Regions from separate parts of the Homo sapiens genome. Here all the other regions are linked to region 6. The links come from fine-mapping of genetic effects on gene expression. A gene starts in region 6. Each other region holds a variant in brackets. All regions are shown on one strand. Distances are from middle to middle.

Region 1 (4,170 bases), 100 kb before region 6:
AGTGAGCCAAGATGGCGTCACTGCACTCCAGCCTGGGTAACAGAGTGAGACCCTGTCTCAAAAATAAGTAAGTTGGCCAGGCGCGGTGGCTCACGCCTGTAATCCCAGCACTTTGGGAGGCCGAAGTGGGCAGATCACGAGGTCAGGAGATCGAGACCATCCTAGCTAACACGGTGAAACCCCGTCTCTACTAAAACTACAAAAAAATTAGGCAGGCGCCTGTAGTCCCAGCTACTCTGGAGGCTGAGGCAGGAGAATGGCATGAACCCGGGAGGCGGAGCTTGCAGTGAGCTGAGATCGCACCACTGCACTCCAGCCTGGGCGACAGAGCTAGACTCCGTCTCAAAAAAATAAATTAAAAAAAAAAAGTAAGTAAGTAAAAATTAGCCAGGCACAGTGGTATGTGCCTGTAGTCCTGGCTACCCAGGAGTTTGAGGCTGCAATGAGCTATGATTGCACCACTGCACACCAGCCCAGGTGACAGCAAGACCCTGTCTCCAAAAAAGGAAAAGAAATGCCCTAATAGATGTTCATTACTTAGAGTAGACTGGCAGCTGCCCCTTGGTGATTTATTGATGGATGCTGGTGTGCATAAGCGTTGCCTTGGAGAGGGCAGCTGTGGTACCCAAGCTGCCAGCCGGCCTGACCTCCCTGTGTGCACTCACAGCCAGCATTCCTCAGAGGGCCCTGCCTGTGGGAGCAGACACCCCTTGCCCTGGGGCCCAGACCTCAGCAGGGCCCCAGTAGCCAGGGAGTGCCTAAATCCTGGGGACTGAACAAAAGTGTGCCTCTGCAGCTCACTGGGATAAAAAGGACTGGGAGGCCTGGCACAGTGGCTCATGCCTGTAATCCCAGCACTTTGGGAGGCCGAGGTAGGCAGATCACCTGAGGTCAGGAGTTTGAGAACAGCCTGACCAACATGGTGAAACCCCGTCTCTACTAAAAATACAAAATTAGCCGGGCGTGGTGGCGGGCGCCTGTATTCCCAGCTACTTGGGAGGGTGAGGCAGGAGAATCGCTTGAACCCGGGAGGCAGAAGTTGCAGTGACCCGAGATCGCGCCATTGCACTCCAGCCTGGGCAACAAGAGCGAAACTGCCTCAAAAAAATAATAATAAAAAGGACTGGGATGCCTCTACCACCCATGAACTTGGGCACATTAGCAAAAGGCACCCCTTCTGGGTGGGGACAACTCCCAGTTACCCACTTGGCAGGTGCCCTTATGCAGGATACAACCTGCACAATTGGCCATGGCTGCTCTGCAAGGGAAGAGGAAATGACCTTTTTCCCCTCCTCTGGGAGCCACATCTCATCCTGCCTCACTGGGCTGCTTTCACTATCAGAGGGTCATTCATACTCCGAACAGCTAGGAGGTGGCTCTGGAGAAAAACTGCCTGAGTTCACTCCCCAGCCCAGCCGCCTCAGGGTATGTGAGTTGTCTTCTCTGTACCTGTTTTACAGCTGGGGAAAGTAGTAATTGTACCCACGTCAGTAGTTAATGCCTGCAAAGAGTTTAGAACAGCTTGGTGGGTGCAGTGGCTCACGCCTGTAATCTCAGCACTTTGGAGGCCAAGGCGCGTGGATCATCTGAGGCCAGGAGTTCGAGACCAGCCTGGCCAACGTGGTGAAACCCCACCTCTACTAAAAATACAAAAATTAGCTGGGCTTGGTGGCGGGTGCCTGTAATCCCA[G/A]CTACTCAGGAGGCTGAGGCAGGAGAATAGCTTGAACCAGGGAGGTGGAGGTTGCAGTGAGCTGAGATCACGCCATTGCACTTCAGCCTGGACGACAGAGTGAGACCTTGTCTCAAAAAAATAAGCTGGGCGTGGTGTCTCACTCCTATAATCCCAGCACTTTGGGAGGCTGAAGTGGGCGGATCATGAGGTCAGGAGTTCAAGACCAGCCTGTCCAATATAGTGAAACCCCATCTCTACTAAAAAACACAAAAATTAGCTGTGTGTGGTGGCGCATGCCTGTAGTCTCAGCTATTCGGGAGGCTGAGACAAGAGAATCGCTTGAACCCGGGAGGCAGAGGTTGCAGTGAGCCAAGATCATGCCATTGCACTCCAGCCTGGGCAACAGAGTGAGACTCCGTCTCAAAAACTAATAATAAATAAATAAATAATAAATTAAAAAATAGCCGGGGCGCAGTGGCTCATGCCCGTAATCCCAGCACTTTGGGAGGCCGAGGCGGATGGATCAACTGAGGTCAGGAGTTCAAGATCAGCCTAACCAACATGGAGAAACCCCGTCTCTACTAAAAATACAAAATTAACCAGGCGTGGTGGCGCACGCCTGTAATCCCAGCTACTCGGGAGGCTGAGGCAGGAGAATCACTTGAGCCTGGGAGGTGGAGGTTGGGGTGAGCCGAGATCGCGCCATTGCACTCCAGCCTGGGCAACAAGAGCGAAACTCTGTCTTAAAAAAAAAAAAAATAGCCAGGCCTGGTGGCGCGTGCCTGTAATCCCAGCTACTCAGGACACTTGAGGTGGGAGAATTGCTTGAACCCGGGAGGTGGAGGTTGCAGTGAGCCAAGATTGTGCCACTGCACTCCAGCCTGGGTGACAGAGCGAGACTCCATCTCAAAATAAATAAATAAATAAATAAAAATAAAAGAAACTCAAATTGGTTCTGTCTCCAAATTCCATCCTGGTGGGTGCTTGTCATGCTCACTTGGGGTTCAGGGCTGCTGCTCCAGCTGCTTCCTGAGACATCTCTAGACATTGCAGTATTTGTTCATGTCCCCGCCCTGTGAGGACACACCCTCTCTAGTTGCCTTCCCTGAAGTAGTGTTAACAATGGGATACAGCATTTAATAAATTCTGACTGAGGTCTCACGGGTTCAATGGTAAACCTAAAAACGCCTGTAGGGCCCACTGGCCATACCCCTTCTCTCAGAGCCCCTCCTGGTCCCTTGGACATCAATAGACACATCAGCTATTATTACTACACTGCCCATAGATGGCTGCCAGGAAGTAGCCTCAAGGCTGACAATTAAAGGGAGGCTTTAATTTAAACTTCAATGGCTGGGGCTGTCGCCTCCATCTGGGAGCACTTGGTCTGGACGGTTTCTCAGAGTCCACCAGGAGCTGCAGCGAGGGGCAGATGGCCCATCCCCTGAGGAGTTTTTCCCCCAGGCCAGACCATGCATAAGAGTCCTGAGCTAGTTCTTCAAGTCAGGCTGGAGGAGACCGCCCTGCCCTGCCCCACTCCAGCCCAGCTCTGGAAACAGCCAACACGCCTGGGGGTCTTTGGCCAGGTCCTGGCATCTCCTAGGACATCGGGCTGCTGCCTGGGCCTCGTCCCCTTCCTCTGCTGTCACTGGATCCATCCCTTCGCGTTCCTTTGGCAGAGGCAGAGAAGCAGAGAAGGATCCTTGCAACTCCCATAGCTGGAGAAACCATAAACCATGGTGGTTGGTTTTTTTTTTTTTTTTTTTTTTTTTTGAGACAGAGTCTCCCTCTGTTGCCCAGGCTGGAGTGCAGTGGTGCGATCTCAGCTCACCGCAACTTCTGCCCCCTGGGTTCAAGTGATTCTCCTGCCTCAGCCTCCTGAGTAGCTGGGACTACAGGCGCGTGACACCACACCCAGCTAATTTTTTGTATTTTTAGTAGAAACGGGGTTTTACCATGTTAGCCAGGATGGTCTCGATCTCCTGACCTTGTGATCCGCCTGCCTCGGCCTCCGGAAGTGCTGAGATTACAGGCGTGAGCCACCGCACCTGGCAATATTTTATTTTATTTATATTTTTGAGACAGGTTCTCACTTTGTCACCCAGGCTGAAGTGCAGTGGTGCGATCTCAGCTCACTGCAACCTCGACCTCCTGGGCTCAAGTGATCCTCCTGCCTCAGCCCTCCAGGTAGCTGGGACCACTGGCATGCAACACCACACTTGGCTAATCTTTTGTATTTTTTGTAGAGACAGGGTTTCACCATGTTTGCCAGGCTGGCCTTGAACATCCCATGCCCGATGGGATGATATTTTAAATCAGGTGATCCGGGAAAGTCTCACTGAGGATGTGGTATTTCCACAGAGACCTATAGGAAATGGGGCTGTGAGCCCTAGGGACTCAGTGTCTGGGGAAAGTGTTCCTGGGAGTCGTGACTCCACCTCACAAGTACAAAGGCCTCATCAGAGGCTGAGTTTGGCACCTGGTGTGCTTGAGGGACAGCA
Region 2 (4,000 bases), 38 kb before region 6:
TGGGCTAGGATGGCTGGGCCCGTTTTACAGTCCAGGAACCCAAGTCCCAGAACAGACTAGTGAGAGAGTTGGGCCTGGGCCTGGTTCTCTGTCTGCTTGACATCCCCATCCTTGAAACTTGGCCCCCATGGACCCGTTATGAGCTCAGGCCGTCCAGGAATGGACAATTTCGCTTCCCTGCAAGCACCTGTGTGCACACAGGATGGGCAGAGCCACCTGGGCTAGCGTGCAGGGGCTCCCAGGTGCCAGGTCGCAGTGATGACTGGGAGAGATGTGCTTCCTGCCCTCGAAGGGCTCCCGGTCTGTGAGGACAGCCGAGCTATCCACGGGGAACAGAAGGGCCCCCTAGGCCTCTCTACAGCTGGTATTTCACCTTGTTCAAAAGAGGCCAAGGCCGGTATCAAGGGCCTGTCTGCAGTGTGTTCTGGTGGTGAAAGGCACAGGCTTGGTGGCCAGGCACATGGCACAGATTCAGGCCCTGACACCACCACCTCCTGGGGCAGCCCTGGTCAAGCGACTCTCCTCGGGGCCGTGAGGATTAAGCAGGGCCGTGTGTCCTGGCAGTTGGGCCTGGCAGCATCCGTCTGCATCCGGAATGGGAGTGGCTGTCCCGCTGCTATCACTGCTGCTGTTGTTAGGACAGATATCCTCTCCCCTTGGGTTTCGTTTGACCCCAGGCCTGAGCCGAAAGTCCCATCCAACTTGGGCTGAGTTCTGAGGGTTTATTTTTGAGCCAGTGCTCACTGTCTTTGTGTGTTTTGCAGAGACCTCGGCCAAGGAAGGGCTCCTTCTCTGGTGCCAGAGAAAGACAGCCCCGTATAAGAACGTCAATGTGCAGAACTTCCACATCAGGTAAGCGCCAGTCCTGGTCATCCTCTCCTTTCCTCTAGGAACCTGAGATCCTTCCTCCCACCTGCCCTGTTTGCTGTGTTTTTGTCGTGGTCTGTGAGATGCCAGCCCTCAGTCAGCCCCTCCCTGGCCACGGGCCCTACAAGCCCATGGGAAGGTCACCTGGTCCTCTCTGAGGAAGAGGAGGCAGTTTCCCAGCCATCCTGGCTGAAGGCAGTAAGGTCAGCCCTCTCGCCGGCCTAATAGAACGTTCTTCGTCCCCAGGCAAGGTGACTCTCAGAAGCAACAATAAAGCTTTTCATTTTTGAGACAGGGTCTTGTGCTGTCACCCAGACTGGAGGGCAGTGGTGTGATCACTCATCCCTGCTGCCTTGGCCTAGGCTCAAGTGATCCTCCTGTCTCAGCCTCCCAAGTAGCTGGGACTGCAGGTGCATGCAGCCACACCTGGCTAATTTTTAATTTTTATTTTTAGTAGGAACAGGGTCTCCCTATGTTGCCCAGGCTGGACTTGAACTCCTGAGCTCAAGCAGTCCTCCTACCCCGGCCTCCCAAAGTGCTGGGACTACAGATGTGAGCCACTGCCTGCCTCTGGCCTCTTCCTTTATTTTGACAGCTCAGGAGTGAATTGTTTTTAGAATTGCTAGTAAATTTAGTGTTGGGGAAAAATGTACTCTGTGGCTGCTAAGATGAACAAGCCTCAGCTCCACCATGAACCTGCTTCCCTCAGGGTGAGCGGGAGATGAGACATGTCCACCATCCCCGTAGCTGAGGCGAGCATGGGCACTGCCGCATGAGGTCCAGGGGGCGGCAAGAGGCAGGCCTGCCTGGTGGTTGGGAGCACTGGCTCTGGGGGCGGTCCTGAGGTCAGATCCGGTTTGCCTTGTGGCTCCACCCTCTGAGTCTCCTGGATGGCCCGCACAGGAATGAAGAGCAGGGCCTCATGGGGTTTGCAGCGGCCTCAGGCTCTCTGGGACCCTTGCTGGGTACAGAGGGCTTTTCCCATCGTGCTCACCCTGATAGCATGTGGTCCCTCCCTTGGTCACTCTTCTCTGTGTGTCTTCTTTTTTTTCCTGCCACTAACTGACTGAATCTTTCTATAGTTTCCATTCATTTTCTTCAACTAGTAAGTATCTAGCATGCCCGCTGCATGCCGTTAGTGGAGATACAGTGGCACCCAAACAAAGTTCCCATTTGTGGGAAGTTTACACCACAGCG[C/T]GGGGACCAGCTGTTAGCACAGCGGCCAGTAATCCTGCAGCATAACTTCAGTGAGAAGTGCTGCACAAAGACAGGGAAGTCAGATGAAGAAAGTTCCCTGGGTGGCCTTTCTGAGGAGGTGACATCGAGCTTGACCTCAGAGGGAACCAACCCTTAGAGGGTCTCAGGGAGGAGAATGTGACCCATATAGCTTGTAACTGACCAACTTGTGGCCTTGGGGAAGGTCTCTTTCCTCCAGAGACCAGCATGCCAAGTGAAATCCTGGCATTTAGCCAGCCCACGGACTGGCCTTCCTGTAAGTCAGGTCCGCCAGGGTGTGGAGGCCACACAGCACAAACACCAGCATCCTGCAGTGGCCACCTCCCCCGAAGCGGCCTGTCTGGTTCAGGGCGGCCTCCCATGGAAGGTGCTAGCAGTTATAAAGCAGTTGTCAGGAGTCAGGCACTGATCCAAGCATTTACTCATTTAATCCGCACAACAGCCCTATGTAGCAGGTATGTCACTATCCCCATCATACAGATGTGGAAACCGAGATAGCCTGGCTTACCCGAGGTCACACTGTCAGTAGGCAGAAGAGTCAGGATTTGATCACAGACTGCCTGGCCCCAGAGGTCATGCTTGCAGCCTCTCTGCCACACTGTCTCCATGCAGTGCCTGGCACAGGCCAGACTGCAGTGAATGGGAATTAGTCACTGCTGTGGGTGCACAGGGCCATACGGCACTCTCATGACAGTGAGCGGGCCCTCCTATAACCTTTGCCTTTCCTTCCCCAGCTGGAAGGATGGTCTTGCCTTCAATGCCCTGATCCACCGGCACAGACCAGAGCTGATTGAGTATGACAAGCTGAGGAAGGTGAGTGTCTCCAGCTCCCCTTGATGGCCCACAGACGTGCCCTGTCTGACCCCCTAACTCCGGGTCACCATCCCCATGCCCTTCCATCGCCAGCCTCCAGATCTGGGTTCTGCACGCAGATGGGCAGCCTGGGAGAGCCTTGTGCAGGCTCTCCGCAACCCCTGGCTCGGTGGCTGACTCTCACCTCCCTTATTCCCCTCGTGGACTGTCCAGTCTCCCTCCATGGCACTGCAACCAACCCGGGGTTATTTAAGGGCCTGGCCAGCCATGCTTTATAACTCCCCTTCCTCAATCTTCTGGATTCTAGAACCTCCTCTGCCCAAAGGGGCAGAGGGCAAGGAATTCCAAACCATCACCACAAGCCCATGTTGCCCATGCAGGGTCCTGCTGTCATTTGCCTGTACAAAGCCTGTATGGATCCAGGCCCTGGCCACCAGAAGCTGCCAGCCTCGTGGGGGAAGGCAGGACAAAAATTGTGTCCAAAGCAAAGCACCACACCAGGCCGTGTACATGTGCTCAGGCTGAATGGGGTGGCAGGGCATGGGGTCAGATCAGTGCTGCGGAGGAGGCTAGTGTACCCCGAGCGAGCAGGAGCCAGGAAAGGTCCCGGAAGAAGAGGCAGCTTAGAGCCAGAGGAGGGCTTCCTGGGGGAGGCACCAGATGGCACCCAGCCCGTTCCAGCCACAGTGAGCAAGAGAGCTGGGCCCCGGCCAGGGAGAGTTGGAGTGCAGTGGGCTTTAGTCCTGTAAGCAGTGGGGAGCCTGTGAGGGGGCTGGGGGACACTTTAGGGTGGTTGGGACCTGGGACCTCTCGGTTTGCTCCCCTTACCCAGTCCCCAGTGCTCTCTCAGGCCTGGCCCACATCTTCCAGTCAATGTGAAAACCAGGTTTTAGGGCAAGGGGCTTAAGCTAGGGTCTGTGGGTGGCTGGAAATTGTATGAAAAGAGTACACCTGCATTTTTCTGGAGAAAAAGCCCTGGTTTGCCCCACAAAGATTTCACGAGGCACTCCTGTGAGTGGGAATTGAATTTATCCAGGCGGTGCCCTCCCGCTCACACATCACACGTGGCTGAGAACTGCCTGAA
Region 3 (4,000 bases), 57 kb before region 6:
CTTACCACGATTAAAGATTACTCCAGGGCCTCGCATATTCACCCTTCCACCAGCAGGGCCCAGTTTACGGATCATTTGAATACTAGCAAAAAAACAAGCCATCTGCTGGAGAGATTGAACAGAGGGAGAAACAGGAGTGTTTGCCCTGCTTCCAGACACCCCTTTCCTGTGGCAGTTCCTGCACCTGGCAAGATCTACTGGGGAATTCCCGGGGTCCCACTAGCTCAGGACGGGTGTGTAGCACTTGCCTAAATAACAATCCCATCAGTGCCCTGTCTGACCTTTTCTCCCCAAATGCCAAAGGCCTCTTGTCTGGATGAACAAATCCCTGGGCGGATTTGTCCAGACTAAAACGTTAATTCTAAAGACTGGGCCCCTTAGGCACTCGCTAAGATTCCAGGCCACACTGTCTCAAGGCCAGAATTGGCTTACTTGGCTATCTTTTTGAAAGATCAAAGTTTAAACCAGATGATCTGTAGTCCCCCACCCCCACCCTGAAACCTGAGCTTAGCTGTAAGCATTGAAAGTAAATGGGGTGTTTGTAGCTCACCCTCCCTGTTCTCCAGGTGAAGGGCCCCGTGTGCCTGATCATTTCATAGCAAAATGCTAGATGGGGCCAGAGGAGGCCCCAGCCTCTGCTGCTGCCCTAATTTTAAAACTGCCTTTTGGGAGTGTAAGTTTCCTCTGTTAAAGGTAGTTATTTCAAGGTAGGCCTCACCATCTCCTCCTCCTGGTGAGAAGCTCTGCCTGGAGGGCTGAGCACTGCCTCCCGCTCTGTGGGCCCCACCTGCCTTGGGTTGAGACCTATCTCTTCCTGGACTCTGTGTGGGGAGTGCAGGCTCTTCCCCTTGGGGAGAACCCAGTTCTTTGACGTATAATCTGAGTGGTTTGGGTTGGTTGGTTGGTTGGTTGGTTGGTTTCCCATGTGTGGGATGGCTCCGGAAGTCTGTTTGAGAACAGAGGCAGGCTCAGATGGGAGCAGCTCCTACCCCGGGCCGCCTATCCCCCTTTACCCTGGGGTTTCTTTTAGCTCCAAGCATCCATTCCAGTCTAACAAATCTGGTGGCAGAGTCTCTTTTTTTTTTTTTTTTGAGACAGAGTCTCACTCTGTTGCCCAGGCTGGAGTACAGTGGCACAATCTCGGCTCACTGCAGCCTCCGCCTCCTGGGCTCAAGCGATTCTCTTGCCTCAGCCTCCTGAGTATCTGGGATTACAGGCGTGTGCCACCACGTCTGGCTAATTTTTCTGTATTATTAGTAGAGACGGCTGGTCTCTACTAATAGTTCAAGACGGCTGGTCTTGAACTCCTGACCTCAAATGATCCACCTGCCTCAGCCCCCCCAAAGTGCTGGGATTACAGGCGTGAGCCCCTGCACCCAGCCCCTCTGGTTCTACTGAGACCTCAGATCTTTCATTTATGGAACAAGGGGGTTGGATTAGATTGTTCGCTCTCAGCCCTCACTTCATGTTAGACTCACTAGGTGGACTTTGTCAAATGTCATTGCCCAGGGCCCACCTTGAGGGAATCTGTCTCATTTTGCCTGTGGTGAAATTCAGGTATTTTTAAAAAGCTCCCAGGTCCCATACATCTATTGTCAATTGATTTTCAACAAGGGTGCAGGACCATTCAATGGGGGAAAGAATAGTGTTTTCAACAAATAGTGCAGGAACAACTATTAATAGATACCCATCTGCAAAGAATGAAGTTGAACCTTTACCTCACACCATATACAAAAATTAACTCCAAACGGATCAGATACCTAAATGTAAGAGCTAAAACTGTAAAACTCTTAGAAGAAAACACAAGTGTAAATCTCATGACCTTGGGTTAGGCAATGGTTATTAGATATGACAGCAGAAACACAACCGAAGAAAAATAGATAAATCAGACTGTTTCAAAACTGGAAACTTTTTGCTTCAAAGGACACTATTAAAGTAAAAGGACAACCCGCAGAATATTTACAAATTGTATATCTGATAAGGGTCTACTGTCCAAAATGTATAAAGGACTCTTAAATTCAACAGTAAAAAGACACACCAGTTAAAAATGGGCAAAGGATTCAAATAGACACTTCTCCAAAGAAGATCTACAAATGGTCAATAAGCACATGAAAAGGTGTTCGATGTCATTACTAATTAGGGCAAATCAAAACCATAACCACTACAAATGGTCAATAAGCACATGAAAAGGTGTTCAATGTCATTACTAATTAGGGCAAATCAAAACCATAACGTGGTTGGGCCTGGTGGCTCATGTCCATAATTCCAACATTTTTGGAGGTAGAAGTGGGAGGATGGCTTGGGGCCACGAATTGGAGACCAGCCTGGGCATCATAGTGAGACCCTGCCTCTACAGAGAATTAAAATAAAAAATTAGGCCGGGTATGGTGGCTCATGCCTGTAATCCTAGCACTTTGGGAGGCCGAGGCGAGTGGATCACCTGAGGTCAGGAGTTTGAGACCAGCCTGGCAAACATGGTGAATGAAACCTTGTCTCTAC[C/CAA]AAAAAAAAAAAAAAAAAAAAACCCACAAAAATTAGCTGGACATGGTGGTGGGCGCCTGTTGTCCCAGCTAGTGGGGAGGCTGAGGTGGGAGAATCGCTTGAACCTGGGTGGGAGAGGTTGCATTGAGCCGAGATCACGCCATTGCACTCCAGCCTGGGCAACAGGGTGAGACCCTGTCTCTAAATAATAATAAAAATGAGAAATTGGCCAGGTGTAGTAGCATATTCCTGGGAGGCTGAGGTGGGCAGATTGCTTGAGCCCAGGAGTTCAAGGCTGCAGTGAGCTATGATGACACCACTGTACTCCAGCCTGGGCAACAGAGTAAGACCCCAACCCTAAAACAAAAAAAAACAGAAAACCACAATGAGATACCACTGCACACCCACCATGATGGCTATAATCAGAAAGTCAGATAATAAGTATTGACTAGGATGGGAGAAATCAGAACCCTCACATTGCTGGTCAAAGTGTAATGTGGTGCAGCTTCTTGGGAAAACAGTCTGGCAGTTCCTCAAAATTTAAACATGTTTTGTATTTTTAGTAGAGACGGGGTTTCACCATGTCACCCAGGCTGGTCTTGTCTCAGCCTCCCAAAGTGTTGGAATTACAGGCATGAGCCACCACGCCCAGCCAAGTTCCTCAAATTTTTAAATATAAGAGGTATCATATGACTCAGCAATTTTACTCCTAGGTATATGCCCAAGGCAGTTGAAAACATGTCCACATAAAACTTGTACATGAATATTCACGGTGGTGCTAATATCCAAAAGATAGAAGCAACACAAATAATGCCCATCAGCCAATGAATTGATAAATAAAATGTGGTATATCCATACAATGGAATGTTATTCAGACAGGAACGAAGTACTGGTACATGCTACAACATGGCTGAACCTTGAAAACATGCTAAGGAGAAGCCAAACTCAAAGATCATATACCATATGGTTCCACTTATATGAAATGCCCAGAATAGGTAAATTGCAAGAGACGAAAGAAAGGTAGGTTAGTGGTTGCCAGGGGCTGGGGGCTGGGTAGGAGGGAAGTGGGGTTGGAGAGTAACTGTACCAGTTTTGCGGTGGTAGACATGTTCCTTGTATTTTTGGTTTTTTGTTTTGTTTTGTTGTTTTGAGATAAGGTCTCACTGTCGCCCAGGCTAGAGTGCAGTGGCGCTGTCATAGCTCACTGTAGCCTCGAATTCCCAGGCTTAAGTGTTCCTCCCACCTCAGCCTTCTGAGTAGCTGGGACTACAGGCAAGAGTCACCATACCCAGTTAATTTTTAATTTTTTTTTTCTTTTTCTTTGAGATGGAGTCTCGCTCTGTTGCCCAGGCTGGAGTGCAGTGGCGCGATCTTGGCTCATTGCAACCTTTGCCTCCCGGGTTCAAGCGATTCTCCTGCCTCAGTCTCCTGAGTAGCTGGAACTACAGGCGTGCGCCACCATGCCCGGCTACTTTTTGTATTATTAGTTAGAGACGAGGTTTCACCATGTTGGCCATGAGAG
Region 4 (4,000 bases), 47 kb before region 6:
GCATGCCAGCCTCACTTCTTTACTCCCTTCCTTCTCGGAGTGGGCTCTGTCCCTTCTGCAGGAGGGCTTTGGCACATGCTCTTCCCAGTATCTGGAAGGTCTCCCTCATTTTTATCTTATTAACTCCTCATCCTTCAGCTCAGAGTTTGAGAATGACTTCTTCAAGGACACCTTTCTGTGTCTGCCTCACCAGTCGCTTGGTGCCCCCCCACCCCGCCACCATGCTGACCGCACTCTTCAGCTCCCATCCCAGGGGAGGTGACACAAACTCGGCCCCAGGAGCCCAGCACCTGGCTTTAAACCCAGCTCTGTAACTTTCTAGGTGTGTGACTGATGGGAGCAAGCCACTTCACCTCTCAGGCCCTCCGTTTCCTCATCTGCAAAATGGAGGCAGTACTAGCACCTCCCTCCAGAGATGATTACGAGGGTGACAGAATTAGTAAGTGACCAAGTGCCTCGAGCAGTGCCCGCCCCTAGTAGACTCTATGGAAGTGTCTGCTGCAGTTATTGCTGTTATTATTACCACTTTTCCTAAGGGCGTTATTTCTGGAGTGGACTGATCGCTTGATTAATGAGATCAGACCTGGAGCCTCATGAGAGTGTCTGCTTTTGCTCACTGTTATGGATTCAGCACAGGGCCTGGCCCTCTGCTGACCCCCAGCATATGCTTGTCCAGAGAATGAATATGTACGGACCCATGGTGGCCTGGGGCATCATGAGGTCGGCTGCCCACATTCTGAGAATTTTGCATGGTGGAGGGCGGCGTGGTGGGCGCATAGGGCCCCCATCTATAGAAACCACCTCTCCACACCATCCACCCCACGCAGCGTAGTCTAAACCGGGTAGGGAGAGGAAGGATGGAAGCAGAGTGTTATTTTTGTAACCAAGTAGAAGAAGCGATGAATTTTTAATGTCCCATTCGAACTCCAGCTCCTACTCACCAGTCTCTCCGCATGGAGAAGTGGCCGTCATGGTCGACCTGTTCCCAAGGGTGGCCTTGTGAGTGCAGGCTCTCCTCACCAGAGCTGAGGGCTTTGTGAACCTCTGATGTCAATAGATGCCCCTCATCTTCCAGGAGGACAAAACAGGGCAAAGCAAGACATGGGGTGAGAACAGGAGTGCATCAGTGGGGTTCCCCAAGCCTGTGTCAGGTCCGGATCTGGGTGGGAGTTCCCTTCTGCGTCATCCAGGCCAGGCGAGTGGGCATCCTCCCTGAGCACCTGTGCTTGGGGCTTTGCCTGTGTCAGTCAGGAAGACAGAGTACACGGAAGAGTTACCATTGCTTTCAGAGCAAACCTTCCTTTGACATGCATTTAACACAGCACGGAGTGATTGACATGTGTCCTTGTGTTTAATCCCTATCTTAACCTCTCGGTTACTGTCCTGTTTATCAGTGAGGAAACTGAGGCTTATTGCTTGCCTGAGGCCTCAGTGGCAGAAGCAAGATGTGAATCCGCACCTGTGTGATGCCCAAGCCAGAGCTCTTGTTTACTACCCAGAGAAGATGAGCACAGGTGGGATGTACGTATGGAGGGCGGGTAGGGCAGCAGCCCCTCTGAGGACAGGTGGCCAGAACCCAAGCGGCGAGGTTTGTTCACAGCCTCCACAGGGTGGGGTGGGGCCATCCGCAGAGGGTCTCCTGCCATCCCATTTTCCCTGCATACCAGTGGGTGGTCTGAGAGCCTTTGCAGAGAAGAGACTGGATCTCAGCACGTGCTTATGTGCGTGTGTACATGCACACACATGCGTGTGATTCATCTGGCTCTTACTTTATGCCAAGGAGCCTGTCACATGCTTTAAATGTATTTTCCCTAGTTTAATTCTTAGAGCACACTGCAGGAGGTAGATTCTGATAAATCCATCTTACAGGGAAGGAAACAGACTTAAGTAGGTAAAGTCACTTGGTTGAAAACATGGAATGAGTAAGCCAAGGGGCAGGTATTCAAACCCAAACCCAGGTCTGTGCCCCTGCAGAGCCTGCAGGAGCAGCCCACACAGGCCAAGGCTGTGAGGGGTGCTGTTTGCACGCGTGCGTGGCCCTCCCTGCAGCCCAGGTGCCTAGGTCTGGGCCTGGCAACACCAGAGCACGGGGCCTTGCCCTCGGGGAACAGCCCTCTTTTGTCCTCAGGCTGTGGGATGTGTCTTGGCTACTTTGCTGCCCAGCAGTGCCTGCTCTCAGGCACA[T/A]GTGAGAGTAGAGGCCTAGCATCCGTGGCCACTTCCTTCCCAGCCCATTTGCTGCTGCCCTTTGCTCTGCAGGGCTGCTGGGCTCCTGGGCTCCACGCCTGCTTGCTGCCTGCCATCAAGGCTGGCAGTGCTCTGGGGCTGTAAAGGTGCAGGCGCCGTACTTCCCAACCCCTGGAGCTCGCACATGGTAGGAGAGAAAGCTCATGTGCATGCAACATCCAATAAGACTAAAAGTGACTGGGGGTTGCTACGGGAGAGGTGCTGAGGGTGGGCCGGGGACAGAGCAGGCACACTGTGGAGGGGGTGGGCAGGACTCCTGAGACCAGGGCAGGGAGGGAGGAGATGCTGGGAGGCACAGGGCCATCCAGAGAGCTGCCACTTCCTGAGCATTGCCATGCACGCTGCAGGCATGGCCATCTTGAGTCCTCACACTGCCCGTGGCCTAGGTGGGGTCTTCATCCCCACGTTGCAGAGGAGGAAATGGAAGTTAGGAAGGTTAGGTGACGTGCCCACATGAGTGGTGTAAGCATGGTTCCCGCCCTGGGCTCTCTGAATTCAGTATTGTATGGGGGAGGCTGGGAAGGTGAGTTAGTACTCTCCGCAGTGAGAACCTGCCTTGGCTCCCCTCCCCTCAAGGAGTTCATAGCCGTGGGAGGGAGGGAGACAAGAACTGTTGGAGACAAGAACTGTTAGAGACCAGAGAGCAAGGGCGTGATGTGGTCTGCAGGGAGGAGGCTGTCTGAGGCAGAACCGGGTCAGGGAGGCCATGGTGCGGGTACCCTCCAGGCACGGCATTTGGCCTGACTTTTGAGGGGTGCCCAGGGTTGGCTACATGGCGGGGCGGAGGTATCTTTAGTGGGGGAACAGCGTTGTGCCACCAGGAGGGGTCTCTGTCTCCCAGGTAGAGGAATTCTCCATGGTGAGAGGTGGTGGTGGGGGATGGTCTAGCTGTCCACTCTTGCCCCCTTTCGGATTTGGAAGGAAGCCCCATGCTGGGTCCACACTGGTATGGCGTATTAATTAGGCAGCTGCTTTGTCTGGGAGGGGGCTTTGTGTCGAGTCTCCCTGAATGAGCAGGGCTGGCGACAGTTGTCAAAACACATGGTGCTTGGTCAGAGCCCCCGTAGAAGCCCCTTGTCCTCCGCATGGCCTCCGCCTGCACCCGGGGCGTGGAATGTGCTCTTGTGTGTCCCTGGCTGTCTGCTTGCTTCTACACTGGCCCCTGCAGATGGAGGGGGTGGGGTACAGGGGTTCCTATAAGAAGCAGACACTTGGGGTTTTTCCCAGGTCCTGTTGCAGGAGGGTGCGTGGGCTGGTTTCCCTGAAGGCGCCTGGGCGTGTTGGTGTTAACTGATCTGAGATCTTCTGTGGCCCTGATGTCTATGAGCATGCCCCAGCTTGCAGGGGGCTGAGTAGCCGGGCACCACCAGGAGGCTGCGTGCCCTGTGCTTGGGTGTACCCATGCCCTGTCAGCATCGTTGGTCTGTTAGGGTCAGGGACTTCGGCTTCTTGTTTAGTACCCTCCATCCCTTCCAGTTGATCATCAGAAACATTCTCCTTAGATGCGGCTGCCTGACCCCGGTGAGGGGGCCTGCCTCCCACTTGCCTTCCAGCCTCCTCTAAGCTGCACTGAGTCTTAAAAATAGGAAGGATAGGGCTGGGTGTGGTGGCTCACGCCTGTAATCCCAGCAGTTTGGGAGACCGAGGCGGGTAGATCACTTGAGGCCAGGAGTTCAAGACCAGCCTGGCCAACATGGTAAAACCCCATCTCTACTAAAAAGACAAAAATTAGATGGGCATGTTGGCATACACCCGT
Region 5 (4,170 bases), 180 kb before region 6:
CCCGGGAGGTTTGCGCACCCGTCACCTCCTTCATGAGTGGGCCCTTCATATGTCTCCTCAGGGGACACCAGCTCATGCACGCGGGCTCATGTCCCACACAGAGCCCTGTCCTCATGTTCTGGGAGCCAGTACACAAACCCTTGGCTCCCCTTCCCACATTCATGCCTGCCTCACGCACACTGCATAACTGCAGGCCCCTCTCACACTCATACTCCTCCTGTCCCCCCACAGAGTCCCAGGCCCTTGCACACCTGCCCCGTGTGCCCACGTCCACCGTGCACACTGAGCCTCTCGTGGTTGCACACTTTTGGCATCTTCCCATGCCGCCACGCCCTCCTTACTCCTGATCCCTCCCTGGCCCCCGGTGTCTCCTCACATACTCCGCAGGAACCCTTGAGATCTTGCACACTCATCTGTGCCCCTCGGGGCCCCACTGCATACACACCCCCATCTGGCACACAAGTGGTTGCAGCATCCTGGCACCCAGGATGTCCACACATCCCTGCCTCTGCAGGAAGCCCCTGTTCACCACGGCCCTTCCCACTCATTCTTTGCACGTGCTGGGGGAGCTCTGCCCTCCTCTCTTCCTCTGACCCTGCGTGCTCCCCATACAAACACTCTTTGCCTTAGTGCTATTCCTCCAAACACCCGCTTCCTTCTGCTCACCCCTTCCCATTCCACTTTCCCCTGCTTCTCAGGCATCCACGTATGCCCATGTGGCCTTGGAGCACCTGTGGGGCAGTATAATAATAGGTAACACTACGGTGTTGTTGTTGTTTGAGACAGAGTTTCGCTCTTGTTGACCAGGCTGGAGTGCAATGGCACGATCTCAGCTCACTCAACCTCCACCTCCTGGGTTCAAGCGGTTTTCCTGTCTCAGCCTCCTGAGTAGCTGAGATTACAGCCATGTGCAACCATGCCCACCTAATTTTTATATTTTCAGTAGAGGCGGGGTTTTGCCATGTTGGCAAGGCTGGTCTTGAACTCCTGACCTCAGGTGATCCGCCCGCCTCGGCCTCCCAAAGTGTTGGGATTACAGGTGTGCGCCACCGTGGCCTGCCCACTATACAGCATTTATCAGGCACCGGGCGCTGTTCTAATCATGCAGCATCTATTAACTCATTTAACCCTCACACCAACCCTATAATGTAGGTCCTATTATGCCCATTTTACAGAGGGGAAAACGGAGGTCCAGAGAGTTAATTCAAAATCACCCAGCTACTCAGTGGCAGAATCAGGATTTGAACCCAGGCAGGCTGGCTGCAGAGCCTTTGCCTTTAAGCACTATGCTCCTCCTCTCAAGGAAGCTAAACACATCCATTCTGGAGCCAGCTCTCTGGGGGTTCGAATCCTATATGTGCCACCTTGTCTGTGTCACCTGGGCATGTAACTTTCTGGGCCTCCCTGTCCTCATCTATAAAATGGGAAGAAAACCCGCTAGCCCTAGGCTTGTTTGTGAGGATTAAATGAGTTTTATGGAAACTGCTTGTATGGGGCCTGGCCTTATTGAAGCATTTACAGGAGTACCCACAGTGAGTGCTCTCTATAAAGCTCTCTCTATAGGTTTGCTATTGATAATCAAAACAACAACTTGGCCAGGCGCTGTGGCTCCTGCCTGTAATCCCAGCACTTTGGGAGGCCAAGGCCAGAGGATTGCTCGAGGCCAGGAGTTCGACACCAGCCTGACCAACACAGACAGACCCTGTCTCTGCAAAAAAATTTTTTTTAGAAATTAGCAGGCCAGTCATGGTGGCTTATGCCTGTAATCCCAGCACTTTGGGAGGGTGAGGCGGGCAGATCACTTGAGGCCAGGAGTTCCAGATCAGCCTGGCCAACATGGCAAAACCCTGTCTCTACTGAAAATTCAAAAACTCAGCCCAGCATGGTGGCAGGCGCCTGTAATCCCAGCTACTCAGGAGGCCGAGGCATGGGGATCATGTGAACCCTGGGGACGAAGGTTACAGTGAGACAGCGTCACTTCATTCCAGCCTAGGAGACAGAGCTAGATCTTGTCTTTTTTTTTTTTTTTCTTGAGACAGACTTTCACTCTGTTGCCCAGGCTGGAGTGCAGTGGCACGATCACAGCTCATGGCAACCTCCGCCTCCCGGGTTCAAGTTATTCTCCTACCTCAGCCTCCCGAGTAACGGATTACAGGGGTGCGCCACCACACCGGCTAATTTTTGCATTTTTAGTAGAGA[C/T]GGGGGTTTCACCATGTTGGCCAGGCTGGTCTCGAACTCCTGACCCCAAGTGATCTGCCAGCCTCAGTTTCCCAAAGTGCTATGATTACAGGCGGAGCCACCGCGCCCAGCCTGACCCTGTCTCAAAAACAAAATACCAACAATGCATTTAGAACAGCGCCTGCCGCGGTGACCCCTTGTAGCTGCCACTGCGCTGTCGCTGCTGTCCGAGCCCCCGCTGACGGCGCCCTATCCTGTCTGCCGCCCCTCGCTTCAGGTGAAGGAGTCCAAGCGCCAGTTCATCTTCGACGTGGTGAACGAGGGCGGCGAGGCTGAGAAGATGGAGCTCTTCGTGAGTTTCTGCGAGGACACCATCTTCGAGATGCAGATCGCCGCGCAGATCTCGGAGCCCGAGGGCGAGCCGGAGACCGACGAGGACGAGGGCGCGGGCGCGGCGGAGGCGGGCGCGGAAGGCGCGGAGGAGGGCGCGGCGGGGCTCGAGGGCACGGCGGCCACGGCGGCGGCGGGGGCGACGGCGCGGGTTGTGGCGGCCGCAGGCCGGGCCCTGCGAGGCCTCAGCTACCGCAGCCTGCGGCGGCGCGTGCGGCGGCTGCGGCGGCTTACGGCCCGCGAGGCGGCCACCGCAGTGGCGGCGCTGCTCTGGGCAGCAGTGACGCGCGCTGGGGCCGCTGGCGCGGGGGCGGCGGCGGGCGCGCTGGGCCTGCTCTGGGGCTCGCTGTTCGGCGGCGGCCTGGTGGAGGGCGCCAAGAAGGTGACGGTGACCGAGCTCCTGGCAGGCATGCCCGACCCCACCAGCGACGAGGTGCACGGCGAGCAGCCGGCCGGGCCGGGCGGAGACGCAGACGGCGAGGGTGCCAGCGAGGGCGCTGGAGACGCCGCGGAGGGCGCTGGAGACGAGGAGGAGGCGGTGCACGAGGCCGGGCCGGGCGGTGCCGACGGGGCGGTGGCCGTGACCGATGGGGGCCCCTTCCGGCCCGAAGGGGCTGGCGGTCTCGGGGACATGGGGGACACGACGCCTGCGGAACCGCCCACACCCGAGGGCTCTCCCATCCTCAAGAGGAAATTGGGGGTGAGAGAGCAGGCGGGGTTTTGGGGTTTTGGAAAGATGGGGGATTGGAGGGAGGAAGAGAGCCCGGCTGGGTGGAGACACACACAGAGGAGAGAACTGGCTAGGGGGATGGGCACACGCACCCACGGAGGACGCACCCATGGAGGACGCACACGGGGACAGCGGGCGCCGGGCAAGAGAGACGCTCAGAGACAGAGGGATACTCAGACCCACAGAGAAAGAGACTCAGAGATGGAGACCTGGAGAAAGGGCCGGGGAGAGAGAGTGCAGGGCCGGACAGAGTGCAGGGCCGGACAGAGTGCAGGGCCCGGAGAGGTAGAGAAAATGATACCTGCAGAGCCAGAGAGAGTAAGAAACCCAGAGACCAAATTAGAGGGCAGGAAAGACCAAAACTAAGCCAGGCGCGGTGGCTTACACCTGTGATCCCAGCACTTTGGGAGGCCGAGGCGGGCCGATCACCTGAGGTCAGGAGTTTGAGACCATCCTGGCCACCGTGGTGGAACCCCGTCTCTACTAAAAATATAAAAATTAGCCGGGCATGGTGGTGTGCGCCTGTAATCCCAGCTACTCGGGAGGCTGAGGCAGGAGAATCGCTTGAACCCGGGAGGCAGAGGTTGCAGTGAGCCAAGATGGTGCCACTGCACTCCAGCCTGGGCGACAGAGCGAGACTCTGTCTCAAAAAAAAAAAAAAAAAAAAAAAAAAAAAGGAAAAGAAAGACCAAGACTAAAAAAAGTCCCGAGACAGGGTCAGGGCCACTAGGAAAAGACCCTCGGAGATACTCGTTGTGGGAATGAAGTACACCGTGGAGGAAGGGACCCCAAACATCCTCAGGCCCTTGGTGCTGGGAATGCCTTGGGAATGTGGAGGTCAAGGTGGTGGGAAGCCCTGGGGACAAGCAGAG
Region 6 (4,072 bases):
AAAAAAAAAAAAAGGAAGGAAGGAAGGAGGGAGGAGGGAGAGAGAGGCCTAGGGAGAGAAGAGACTGAGGAGGGATCCAGGGGCCGGGAGTGGGTGGACAAAGGGATGGAGCTGTCAGGATCTCAGCTGAAACTAGCTGGATCTGAGGACTCCAGGTGGGTTCAGGGTCTCACCCAGGCTCCCCTGACACACGTCTGTGCGGCTCATGTCTTCACAGATGAACTTCGGCTCAGCACAGAACTCCTGTGGGTGGTGGGGGATTCCAGGCCTCAGCCTGAGAAAGCGAGGAAAGGTCTCATCCAGAGGAGTGAGGGCCTCCAAGCCCATGAAAGGCCTGGAAGCCTGTGGGCAGGAGCATGGCTTCCCTGGGTCTCCAGAAGTTGTGCTGAGCCAGTCCCATGGTAGCCCCCTCCTCCCTCAGACCCGGGAGTCCAGGCCCAGCCCCTCCTCCCTCAGACCCAGGAGTCCATGTCCCGAGCCCCTCCTCCCTCAGACCCAGGAGTCCAGGCCCAGCCCCTCCTCCCTCAGACCCAGGAGTCCAGGTCCCGAGCCCCTCCTCCCTCAGACCCAGGAGTCCAGGCCCAGCCCCTCCTCCCTCAGACCCAGGAGTCCAGGTCCCGAGCCCCTCCTCCCTCAGACCCAAGAATCCAGGTCCCCAGCCCCTCCTCCCTCAGACCCAGGAGTCCAGGTCCAGCCCCTCCTCCCTCAGACCCCGGAGTCCAGGTCCCCAGCCCCCTCTTCCCTCAGACCCAGGTGTCCAGGCCTTGGCCTCTCCTCCCTCAGATCCAGAAGTCCAGGTCCAAGCCCCCTCCTCCCTCAGACCCAGGAGTCCAGGTCCCCAGCCCCTCCTCCCTCAGACCCAAGAGTCCAGGCCCAGCCCTTCCTCCCTCAGACCCAGGAGTCCAGGCCCAGCCCCTCCTCCCTCAGACCTAAGAGTCCAGGTCTCGAGCCCCTCCTCCCTCAGACCAGGGAGTCCAGGCCCCCAGCCTTCCTTCCTCAGACCCAGGAGTCCATGCCTCCAGCCCCTCCTCCCTCAGACCCCAGAGCCCAGACCCCAGCCACACTTTACATGGGGCCTCATCCATTTCACGCCTTTGGCCTTCTCCGAGTCCGGCCCCAGCTGGTCATAGCCAAGGGCATCAGGGCCAGCAGGGAAGTAAGGGTCGCGGAACAGGATCCCCGAATCCAGGCAGGCTGCCCGAATTGCCTCATAGCTCTGGCCCCGAAAAAGCTGCAGGCGCCCGGCTCCGACCCCAGCCTCCTCATCCACGAGCTGGATGGTGACCCTCCCACTGCTGGATGCCATCTGGACACTGGCCTCACAAGCCGGCACCAGGCCCTTTAACCTCCTGAGTCACGGGGGCGGGGCCTCTCTTCCATTGGAGCCCCAGTGGGGTCTTTAGGCAATGAGGAGCCTTCCCTCGTTAATATTAATTGATGGTTTGGGGTGCTGGGGAGCAGGGACGCCTCTTCAGTAGCTTTCTTCCCAGGGCGTGGGGCCTTCAGTTGTGGCCAAGGTAGCAGCTTAATGGGCTTGGCCAGCAGCAGGAGAGAAGGCGGGCAGAGCTGAGGGAGGACCGGCTGCCGCTGTCAGAGCACCAAGAAGGAGGTCAGTGTGGGGGTGAGCTTCTGCCTACTTATGCCTGTGGGGCTGGGGAAGGAGGCGGGTTTACCTCGGTGTCTCTATCTCTCAGACTGCCTCTCTCCCCCTCCCTCTGACAGTTTCTCTCTCCCCGCCTTCATGTTTCTTCTCCATCAGTTTCTGGAGTGCAGTGGCACGATCTCAGCTCACTGCAACCTCCGCCTTCTAGGTTCAAGTGATTCTCCTGCCTCAGCCTCCCAAGTAGCTGGGATTACAGGCTCGTGTCACCATGCCCAGCTAATTTTTGTATTTTTTGTTAGAGAAGGGATTTTACCATGTTGACCAGGCTGGTCTTGAACTCCTGGCCTCAAGCAATCCGCCCACCTTGGCCTCCCAAAGTGCTGGGATTACAGACGTGAGCCACTGTGCCTGGTCAGGTTTTGTTAATTAAAAAAAATTTTTTTTAAAGTAGAGACAGAGGGGTGGCGGGGGGCGGTCCCATATGTTCCCCAGGCTGGTCTTGAACTGCTGGCCTCAAGTGATCCTCCTGCTTCAGCAGCCTCCCAGAGAGCTGGGATTACAGATGTGAGCTACTGTGCCTGGCCCTTTCTTGTTTTTTGTTTCTGGCAATATTTGTGTCTCTGTATTTCCCCAACTCCACCCCTCTCCCCACCCCACCCTCTTTTTTTTTTTTTTTTTTTTTTTGTAGAGATGGGGCGGGGATCTCACTTTGTTGCCCAGACTGGTCTCGAACTCCTGGGCTCAAGTGATCCTCCCCGCTTGGCCTCCCAAAGTGTTGGGATTACAGGCGTGAATCACTATGCCTGTCCCCTCTCTCTTTGTGTCTCTTTCAGCGTGTGTCTGTTCCTCTCTGTACCTGTCAGACCCAGGAGTCCAGGCCCCCAGCCCCTCCTCCTTCAGACCCTGTCAGTGTACCTTGTGTCTGCCTCCCTGTCTCTTCCTCTCCATCTTTCTGTCTGTCCCTGTAACCCATATGTGGCTCCTCCATCATCCACCGAGGGACCCTGAGCTCCCCTCCGCTCACGCCCCCTAAGCCCTCAGGATGCGCCTCCTCCCCTCCCGGACAAGGTAGACTCAGCCTGCTTGCCCAGGGAGGCTGACCCTGGAGGGATGGCTCTGTACCTCTCCTGTGCTGGGAGCCATCTGGTGACCATGATGCCCTGCCCTGGCCCACGCCACTCAGAGTCTGGATGGAGCAGTATTTCCCCCAAAGGACTCTGGAGCCATTGGAGGAAATGGGAGAAACAGGTACGGAGATGCCAGAGCCTCAGCAGTGCTGGTCCCAGCAGACCTTCCACCCTCGTTGAGGGTGTCTGCTGCCCTCCCAGAGCCTTGTCACCTCCACGCCACTCAGATGTCCCTCAAGCCTTTTGGCCTTCTTCCCTCCAAGTGGACCCACAAATATTGTCCAAGCCACCCACGTACACGGCTACCAAAAGTGGGTTACAAAACAGGCTTTCTGGCTGGGCGTGGTGGCTCATGCCTGTAATCCCAGCACTTTGGGAGGCCGAGGCAGGCAGATCACCTGAGGTCAGGAGTTCGAGACCAGCCAGGCCAATGTAGTGAAACTCCGTCTCTACTAAAATACAAAAATTAGCCGGACATAGTTGCGGGCACCTGTAATCCCAGCTACTCAGAAGGCTGAGGCAGGAGAACCGCTTGAATCTGGGAGGCGGAGGTTGCAGTGAGCCGAGATTGTGCCACTGCACTCCAGCCTGGGCAACAGGGCAAGACTGCATCTCAAAAAACCCCCCAAAACAGGGCCGGGCATGGTGGCTCATGCCCGTAATCCCAGCACTTTGGGAGGCTGAGGTGGGCAGAACACTTGAGGCCAGGAGTTCAAGACCAGCCTGGCCAACATGGTGAAACACCATCTCTATTAAAAATACAAAAATTAGGCTGGACGCGGTAGTTTACTACGCCTGTAATCCCAGCACTTTGGGAGGCCGAGACGGGCGGGTCAGGAGTTCCAGACCAGCCTGGCCAACATGGTGAAACCCCATCTCTACTAAAAAATACAAAAAAATTAGCTGGGTGTGGTGGCACGCACCTGTAATCCCAGCTACTCAGGAGGCTGAGGTAGGAGAATCGCTTGAACCCGAGAGGTGGAGGTTTCAGTGAGCCAAGACTGCACCACTGCACTCCAGCCTCGGCAAGAGAGCAAAACTCCATCTCAAAAAAAAAAAAAAAAAGGCCGGGCACGGTGGCTCAAGCCTGTAATCCCAGCAGCACTTTGGGAGGCCAAAGCAGGCAGATCACGAGGTCAGGAGATCAAGACCATCCTGGCTAACACGGTGAAACCCCATCTCTACTACAAAAAATACAAAAAATTAGCCAGGCATGGTGGCGGCCACCTGTAGTCCCAGCTACTCGGGAGGCTGAGGCAGGAGAATGACGTGGACCCAGGAGGCGAAGCTTGCAGTGAGCCGCCACTGCACTCCAGCCTGGTTGACAGAGCAAGACTCTGTC

What was found. PIP is the estimated chance that this variant, and not a neighbour inherited with it, causes the effect.
Region 1: its variant is fine-mapped to the expression of CAPN12 in whole blood (TOPMed, PIP above 0.99).
Region 2: its variant is fine-mapped to the expression of CAPN12 in whole blood (TOPMed, PIP above 0.99). The same link has a PIP of 0.9 or more in T cells and blood mononuclear cells.
Region 3: its variant is fine-mapped to the expression of CAPN12 in whole blood (INTERVAL, PIP 0.99).
Region 4: its variant is fine-mapped to the expression of CAPN12 in whole blood (TOPMed, PIP above 0.99).
Region 5: its variant is fine-mapped to the expression of CAPN12 in whole blood (TOPMed, PIP above 0.99).

What each region holds. Positions count from the first base shown.
Region 1 is chr19:38,639,219-38,643,388 of GRCh38, forward strand. No RefSeq gene overlaps it. Among named protein-coding and RNA genes, the nearest start is that of ACTN4, 6.3 kb to the right of the region's middle. RefSeq lists an enhancer at 447-1,385. The variant G/A (reference allele first, on the strand shown) is at 1,691.
Region 2 is chr19:38,705,280-38,709,279 of GRCh38, forward strand. ACTN4 (actinin alpha 4) reads left to right here. Exons shown (of 21, transcript NM_004924.6): 5 at 765-852; 6 at 2,838-2,916. All of the region lies in intron 1 of LOC107985291 (a long non-coding RNA gene), which reads right to left. Among named protein-coding and RNA genes, the nearest start is that of CAPN12, 37 kb to the right of the region's middle. RefSeq lists enhancers at 1-105, 2,525-3,311. The variant C/T (reference allele first, on the strand shown) is at 2,065.
Region 3 is chr19:38,685,891-38,689,890 of GRCh38, forward strand. The region is part of intron 1 of ACTN4 (actinin alpha 4); the gene reads left to right. Among named protein-coding and RNA genes, the nearest start is that of ACTN4, 40 kb to the left of the region's middle. RefSeq lists an enhancer at 86-145. The variant C/CAA (reference allele first, on the strand shown) is at 2,500.
Region 4 is chr19:38,695,634-38,699,633 of GRCh38, forward strand. The region is part of intron 1 of ACTN4 (actinin alpha 4); the gene reads left to right. Among named protein-coding and RNA genes, the nearest start is that of CAPN12, 47 kb to the right of the region's middle. The variant T/A (reference allele first, on the strand shown) is at 2,185.
Region 5 is chr19:38,562,504-38,566,673 of GRCh38, forward strand. It overlaps RYR1 (ryanodine receptor 1), which reads left to right. Exons shown (of 106, transcript NM_000540.3): 91 at 2,456-3,268. Among named protein-coding and RNA genes, the nearest start is that of MAP4K1-AS1, 32 kb to the right of the region's middle. RefSeq lists a silencer at 3,109-3,178. The variant C/T (reference allele first, on the strand shown) is at 2,200.
Region 6 is chr19:38,742,860-38,746,931 of GRCh38, forward strand. It overlaps CAPN12 (calpain 12), which reads right to left and starts at 1,615. Exons shown (of 21, transcript NM_144691.4): 1 at 1,070-1,615; 2 at 174-243. The coding sequence starts at 1,306.